Linked DNA regions of Homo sapiens. The protein of the gene in region 1 purifies or fractionates together with the protein of each later gene. This does not show direct contact. Each region holds a gene or a part of one and is shown on either strand. Other genes may lie near its edges.

Region 1 (3,500 bases):
GTTATTAGCAAATGCAGCTCTTTGAGATAAATTAAAAATGAATCATTTTAGGTCAGTAGTATCTGTTGTGTTCACTTATCAATGGAATTCACTTGTATTTGTTAGTGATCTTATCTAGAGGAATTATTCTTACTCGTTAAAAACTTCTTAAAAATGTTTGTGTGGCAGTAGATAACCTAAAAGAAAACTGTCTCTGTTGTCATGTTCAGAGTCAGGGTCACCAAAGACATGAAAATGAGAAAGATGAGCCATTATCATCCCTTGCCCTTAGCTCTTGTAAGAAAATAGTAGATGTAGCTATAGCATTTGTGGAAATGAATTTCTGTCTCTGATCACAGTTACCAAATAATTACTAATGGTGTTTTGGGGGAAGGAGAAATGATTGAGGGAGATTATCATATGATACTTTATTCTCCAAATGTAATGGAAGCACTTTCAACTCACTTATAATGTATCATTCATGATACATTATACTAGTGCTTTTAGAAAGCTTTACTTACTTTTCAGAACCTTCATGAATTGATTCATTTCCATTAGTGGCCAGCAGACCTTCACGTATTTTAGCTACTGCAGTGGATTAAAAAAATAAAATCCTTAGTATATAAACATTTGATTGGTTTATTGGACTGTTCCTTTCTTACAATTGTTTATGTTTCAGGAGTCTTTGGGAGAAACAGTAATAGAGAAATCTTGACAGTCAATATGTGTTACATTCTTTTTAACCTGTTTTCTTATTTCAGCTTTACTTTTAGAAGCCCAGTCAACACCATTTCAGGTCACACCTTCAACTATGGCAAATATTGTGAAAGGCCTGTATACCCTCAGACCAGGTAAACATTTCTCATTTCTGTTGGGATTGGAACTGTTTGTTACAGCCTTTTCCAAGAGGGCAGTGGTTCTGTATGTGTTTTGTGAGGCTTAATGGTACTTGGATTTGCTGGAGCAAAAAAATTGAGTAGATACTCATCATTGTGAAATGTAAACTCAGAGCTCAGTTGGAATGTTCTCTGCTAGTGGAAACCAACTAGTGTGGTTTTTGCAGAACCTGTGAGGGAAATACAAGAAATAAATTGTAGGATACACTTTGGATAAAATTGAATCTCATGTTTGGTCTTAGTTTCTTCTTTACTTCCTGCCTCACGCTGCACATACTTACAGACATCCACATTCACAACCCCGTCTTCTTAGGCCTGTTAAGTAACTTGCGAAGAATCTAGAAGTGTTGGTAAAGTTACAGTCATTTTGTAAGGATGTTCTGGGGAGAGAGACAATCACAAGAACCAAAGCAAATACCAAAGATCACTATAGTCAAAAGCATGGTTTTTAAATTCTTAATGTGTCTCTCTATCTTAGAATAAAACATTATAAATTTAAAGGAATCCCAAGGAGCTTTTGTATATATCTTTCTATAAGCCGGAACCTCAAACTTGTCATAGAGTTGTCTAGCAACTTATAAATGTCCATGGGAGAGAGATTACAAAAGTTATCAGGATAGAACGTTGTTCTACAATCTATAAATACAAGGAATGCTTTTTAGATAGTAATTACCTTTTTGTGAAATTCTTTTGTTGTTTGAGGATTAAATGAAATAAAACATGATATAAAGAGCTTAACGCACAGTACCTGATAACATAATAAGCATGCAAACATTCACTGCTGTTATTACTATCCATTTGAGTTTAATGGTTATTTTAATTAATTGATGGCTTGTTTGCTTAATTAAACGACCTGTCAGAATTTAGCAAGCTAAAATGGAAACCAAGTGAAAACTGGTACTGGTAGACTGATTTTAGAAATACCTTCTTAGGCTGGGTGTGGTGGCTCACACCTGTGATCCCCAGCACTTTGGGAGGCCGAGGCGGGCAGATCACGAGGTCAGGAGATCCAGACCATCCTGGCTAACACGGTGAAACCTCGTCTCTACTAAAAATAGAAAAAATTAGCCTGGTATGGTGGCGGGCGCCTGTAGTCCCAGCTACTTCCTGAGCTGATTGTACCACTGCACTCCAGCCTGGGCGATAGAGTGAGACTCCATCAAAACAAAACAAAACCCTTAGGCTACTTTAAATGATTAATGACATCTAGAGTATTCAAATTTATTGTTAAATTTGGATCTAGGGTTTGAGCTTTACTTTCTGTGACTTTTAACAGAAATTACTTGTATAAAGTAGTAAAGATTTTATTGCATATGTCCAATAAACTGATACTTTTCTGTATTTAGTTTCTCAGAATTTTACAGCAGTGTGATGAAGATGGCTCCTGAAATAGTGTGTGTACCAGGTTATGAATGATTTTTTTTCCTTTGAAAGCATCTAAGTGCAGTATGACAAATTCTGCCTCCCAAGTAGGCAGCTTATAAGCACTGGCTTTTATCATACGTAACAAAATTGCAAAATAAAGTTTATCACTAAAGGTAGAAAAGTATTGTGGGTACATGTTTATCTAAATGCTATTTTATCCAGGTTCAAGCTCTTGTAATAGGATTTATACTACTTGTAAGGAGAATTCTATATTTGAGAATTGTCCTTTTGAAAAGGTGAATTTTATCACATACTAACCTTTTGCTGCCCTGCACATTTTCTGAGATACTTGAAAACATATTTTGACATTTACATGTTTTGCCAGTACCCATTATGTTCCTGCTTTATTAAAGCCATTTTATTCACCTGACAGATTAAGATTAGAATATTTTAAAAGTTGAATTTTGAAAGCAAAAGTTTGTTCTACTGCAGTAGTTCGCAAGTGCTGGTCTTTGTATGACTGCATCTGAGTCACTTAAGAAGGCTTTTTAAACTCTAGATTCCTGGGCTGTAATCCTTGGAGATTCTCATGACTTACCATTTTTGGCATCCATTCTTTAGAAATAGTTCCAGCAATCCTATTCTGCCCGTTTTCATTTAATACACACACTTTGTTTCTTCATCTTTATTTTGTGGCAGATGGGTTTGACTTTGCCAGCTGTGACTGATTAGTGGTTCTCTGTAGCACTGTATTGAGACTCTTAGTGAAGCCATATTTGAGCTGGACTGGAAGGAGGGAAGCATTTTGCCACGAGTTTCTCCCAAGGCGTGACTGAATGGATTGGTCCTTGTATCATTTGCAGTGCTTATTTGCCAGCTTTAATTAGCTATTCTCCTGTTAGACGTTTTATTAACTTCTACTTTTTTACTTACCACAGAGCAAATGTTCCACAGCATCAAGCGTGGCTTTTTCTGATTTATAATCATTTACTCAGATTATCGTTTTTAAAGTGATTCAAGAGCATTAATATTTTTATAGTTTTTGACATGTGTAGCCAAAATGTTTTCCAAGAGGAAAAATGTAAAAGGGCTAGATTAAAACAATTCAAAATGAGTAATAGTGTTAATTGAGGACCACCACCAAGGAAGGGAAATACTGGTTTCCCCATGCCCTTGATACAGGTGGGTGTTAATTCTCTTTAATGTTCACTGAATAAAAAGGAGAGAGTATATTTATTTTAGCTTGAATTTTTTTAAATA
Region 2 (3,500 bases), on another chromosome or scaffold:
GGCACTAAAGGAAATGAGATGGCCTGGGTGCAGTGGCTCACACCTGTTATCCCAGCACTTTGGGAGGCCAAAGACAGGAGGATCCCTTGAGTCCAGTTCAAGACCAGCTTGGACAATATAGTGAGACCCTGTCTCTACAAAAAATTAAAAAAAAAAAAAAGCTAGGTGTGGTGGTATGCACCTGCAGTAGCACCAGCTCCTCAGGAGGTTATGGTGGGAGGATTTCTTGACCCTGGGAGGTTGAAGCTGCAGTGATCTGTGTTCACACCACTGCACTCCAGCCTGGGTGACAGAGAGAGACCCTGTTTCAAAAAAAAAAAAAAAAGAGGAAGTGAGATGGATAAAGAAAAAAGTAGTGAGTAATGGAGGATAAGATGCTTGGAAATTAGATTAGAGAGGTATTATACTTATTGGTAATCACATAGCCTAGAGTAAAACCATGGTATGAATGCCTTAAAGGTAGGATGGACATCAAGGAAATGACAGGCCAAGCCAGGGTAGTAAATCATTTATAATATCCATATAGATTCTATATGGATAGTAAAATCACTAAGAATTCTGATTGAATCAGTGTATGTGAAAGAGAGAAAGCAAAAATCTTCAAAGTGTAAGGAGTGATTTTGAGACAAGATTATGCAGCTGTTTGTAAGGTTTTATGCAAGGTACTGGGGACACAAACAAGCAAATAGGCCTTATAACACAGCGTGTTGAGTGCTAGATGGGAGACAGACACGATATTGGATAGCACAAAGTAAAGATCTCTGTGATAGAGAACTTCCTTCTTACAATCTGGACAGAGAAAGAAGAATGCCCGTACACTGTGGATGTGATTTAAAAAAAAAAAAAGCAGAAAGTATTCATTTTAGCTATTAGGGTCTCTGGAAACAAAGGGGAATTCTGCTGATTCAGAAGCTAAAAACATTAGAGAGCAGGAGGGTGGGAGAGGGAGAGATAGCTTGATTCAGCTGATAGAAAATGTAGTTTCAGAAGGTCTTTACCAGAAGCTTGTTGTGAGGGCAAAGGTCCCTGATAAGAGTTAAGCCATTTTCCCAAAAAAGAATGGAAAAATACAGTATAATTAGTACTATATTGTTGTATAAAATCACTCCAATTTGCTTACATGCTTTTTTGAACTATCTGAAATGTTTCCATCATTTATAAAAATTATAGTGGAAAACTTTGTGCTGAATTTTAAACAACTTATCACATTTAAAAATGCCAGCCAGGTGCCATGGCTCACACCTATAATCCCAGCACTTTCAGAAGCAGAGCCAGGAAGAACACTTGAGGTCAGGAGTTCGAGATTAGCCTGGGCAACACAGCGAAACCACCTCTACAAAAAAAATTTTTTTATTAGCTGGGGGTGGTGGTACGTGCCTTTAATTCTAGCTACCCAGGAGGCTGAGGCAGGAAGACTGTTTGAGCCCAGGAGACTGCGGTGAACTATGATTGCACCACTACACCCTAGCCTAGGTGACAGAGCAAGACCTCGTCTCTTAAGCAAAACAAAAAACGAACCCATCCATTTTAAAGCTAAGAATTGCCTAATGTGTCAAGTCTATGTGCATGGAGAAAAATAAACAAAGAAAAGCAAAGATTGCTTAATGTATGTATTTTATGTGGCAGTATAACTGGAAACCATCAGTTATTAATAAAAATTATAAAGGTGATGGTATTAATGAAGAAGAATAAAAGCAAATACACAATTCCATACTGTGTAACAGACATTATGCCTAATGATTTATAATTATTAACTCATTTGCTTATCACAAACACCTTATGATGTACTAACATCATTATACTCATTTAAAGATTAGAAAAAGGAGGCTCAAAATAATTCTAAATCTTCTGAGGAAGATTTTTGCCTTCCTCAGAAAACATGTATCTGTCACCAGCCCCTTGAGATGTCAAAATGCTAGTGAAAAGAAAAAATTATAAAAATTAATGACTATGGTGCCAAGAGACAAGGTCTTATTTAAACCCATAGAAATACAAATATTAACTAAAGCTCTAAATTTAAAATAAATTTTAAAAAATCACTGACAGCATAATCCTTACCTCAATGTAGGAAGAAACCCAACACACAGATTATTACAGGTGAACTTTGTGATATGTGAGCATGAACTACATCAGAGTTGATTTCATATACTTAAGAATCCCTATGTTCAGAGAATTTCTTCTTAATCAGAATGATTACTTTTACTCAGAATTATCTGGATGACAAAACCTACTCAGATGACAAAACCTGCTCACAAATTAAAATCTATCAAAAAAAGAGAAAACATCCTTACTGTCCCTGCAGTATCCAGGATTTCGAGCATACACTGTTGGCAATCGACTTCAACTTGCTGTGGGGGCAAAAAAAAAAAAAAGGTTAAAGAGTAACATCAAAATCTCATTCTGTTTTCTTCCCACCTCTTCCATCAAAGTAACTATTAACAAATACAAAGCCTGTCTCCAGCAGTATGCTGTAATGGCTGGGGGTAAACTTGGTACCACAATAAAGAACAGCGGTCTCAAGTACAGTCTATTCATATTACAGAAGCCAAGATGGTTAATGCTGAGTTTAGATATTTTCTGACCTCTGTAACGATTCTTATTTGTTATTAGAAAAGGCAAAAGTCATATTTTGAAATTTAAGGAAAACTTCAACGAACAAGTATAGTTCTAACAGAAAAAAAAGTACATATGTGTATTTATATTATCTCCAAAGAAAACAAAGTACAAAAATATTAAATGGCTCAAAATGCGCACAACATTTTGGGGTAAAGAAAATCTTGCCAACTTACCATGTTCAAGTTGTTAAAATTTTACTAAAATATGCAGAAAATTAAATACACAGTAAAATCTGAGTTTAAGACATAAAAGAAACACAGGAGTACTAAAATAAACAGCAATGAGCTAAAACAGTGCCTCAAGAAAAAGGCACTTTTCTAGAAAAGCTCTATGTGAAAGGTGAAATTTTATACACTGAGTTCTATTTACCCATTGGTCTTATAAAAGAAAAGAAGGTTGGTCTAATGAAAGTATCAACTATCAACTGTGTGGAAAACTGTTTTAATAAAGAAGGGATTAAGAAAAGTTAGTCCCTTAGAATTTTAGGTACAGATCTTGCTTTGCAGTTAAAGCTTTAACTAGCAACTTACTTTGGGGAAATTTCAGTAGAGCAACACTGTCTTCTAAAAATAAATGTGCTAACCTAAAGACTATTTTAAACTCTGCTTCTGTGTCAGATCAGACATTGATGAGGGGCACCACTGGTCAGACCACAAACTCATCCACCCCACCACTTATGGGACAAGTGTGATAATCTGCAAAATTTGTAACTGGGAATGTTCAGTGAATAATCAATTAGGACTATAGTTTCTTGATGTATCTAGAGCATAATTCTGTTTCCAATTTGAAGACAATGAAACTGCTCTACTAGTAGTCCTTCATGAACTAACAAATTAATTCAACAAAAGTTACAGCACTATTAAAGGTAAATTCTAAAAATGTCT

What was found.
Region 2: the proteins of CACUL1 (region 1) and RAP1A purify together in Homo sapiens (affinity purification with mass spectrometry; one large-scale study listed by BioGRID and IntAct). This does not show direct contact.

Annotation. Positions count from the first base shown.
Region 1 is NC_000010.11:118,692,471-118,695,970, reverse strand, and holds part of CACUL1 (CDK2-associated and cullin domain-containing protein 1), read left to right. Parts: intron 1-740; coding exon 741-830; intron 831-3,500.
Region 2 is NC_000001.11:111,696,289-111,699,788, reverse strand, and holds part of RAP1A (ras-related protein Rap-1A precursor), read right to left. Parts: intron 2,349-3,500; coding exon 2,292-2,348; intron 1-2,291. UniProt on the Homo sapiens protein: Counteracts the mitogenic function of Ras, at least partly because it can interact with Ras GAPs and RAF in a competitive manner. Together with ITGB1BP1, regulates KRIT1 localization to microtubules and membranes.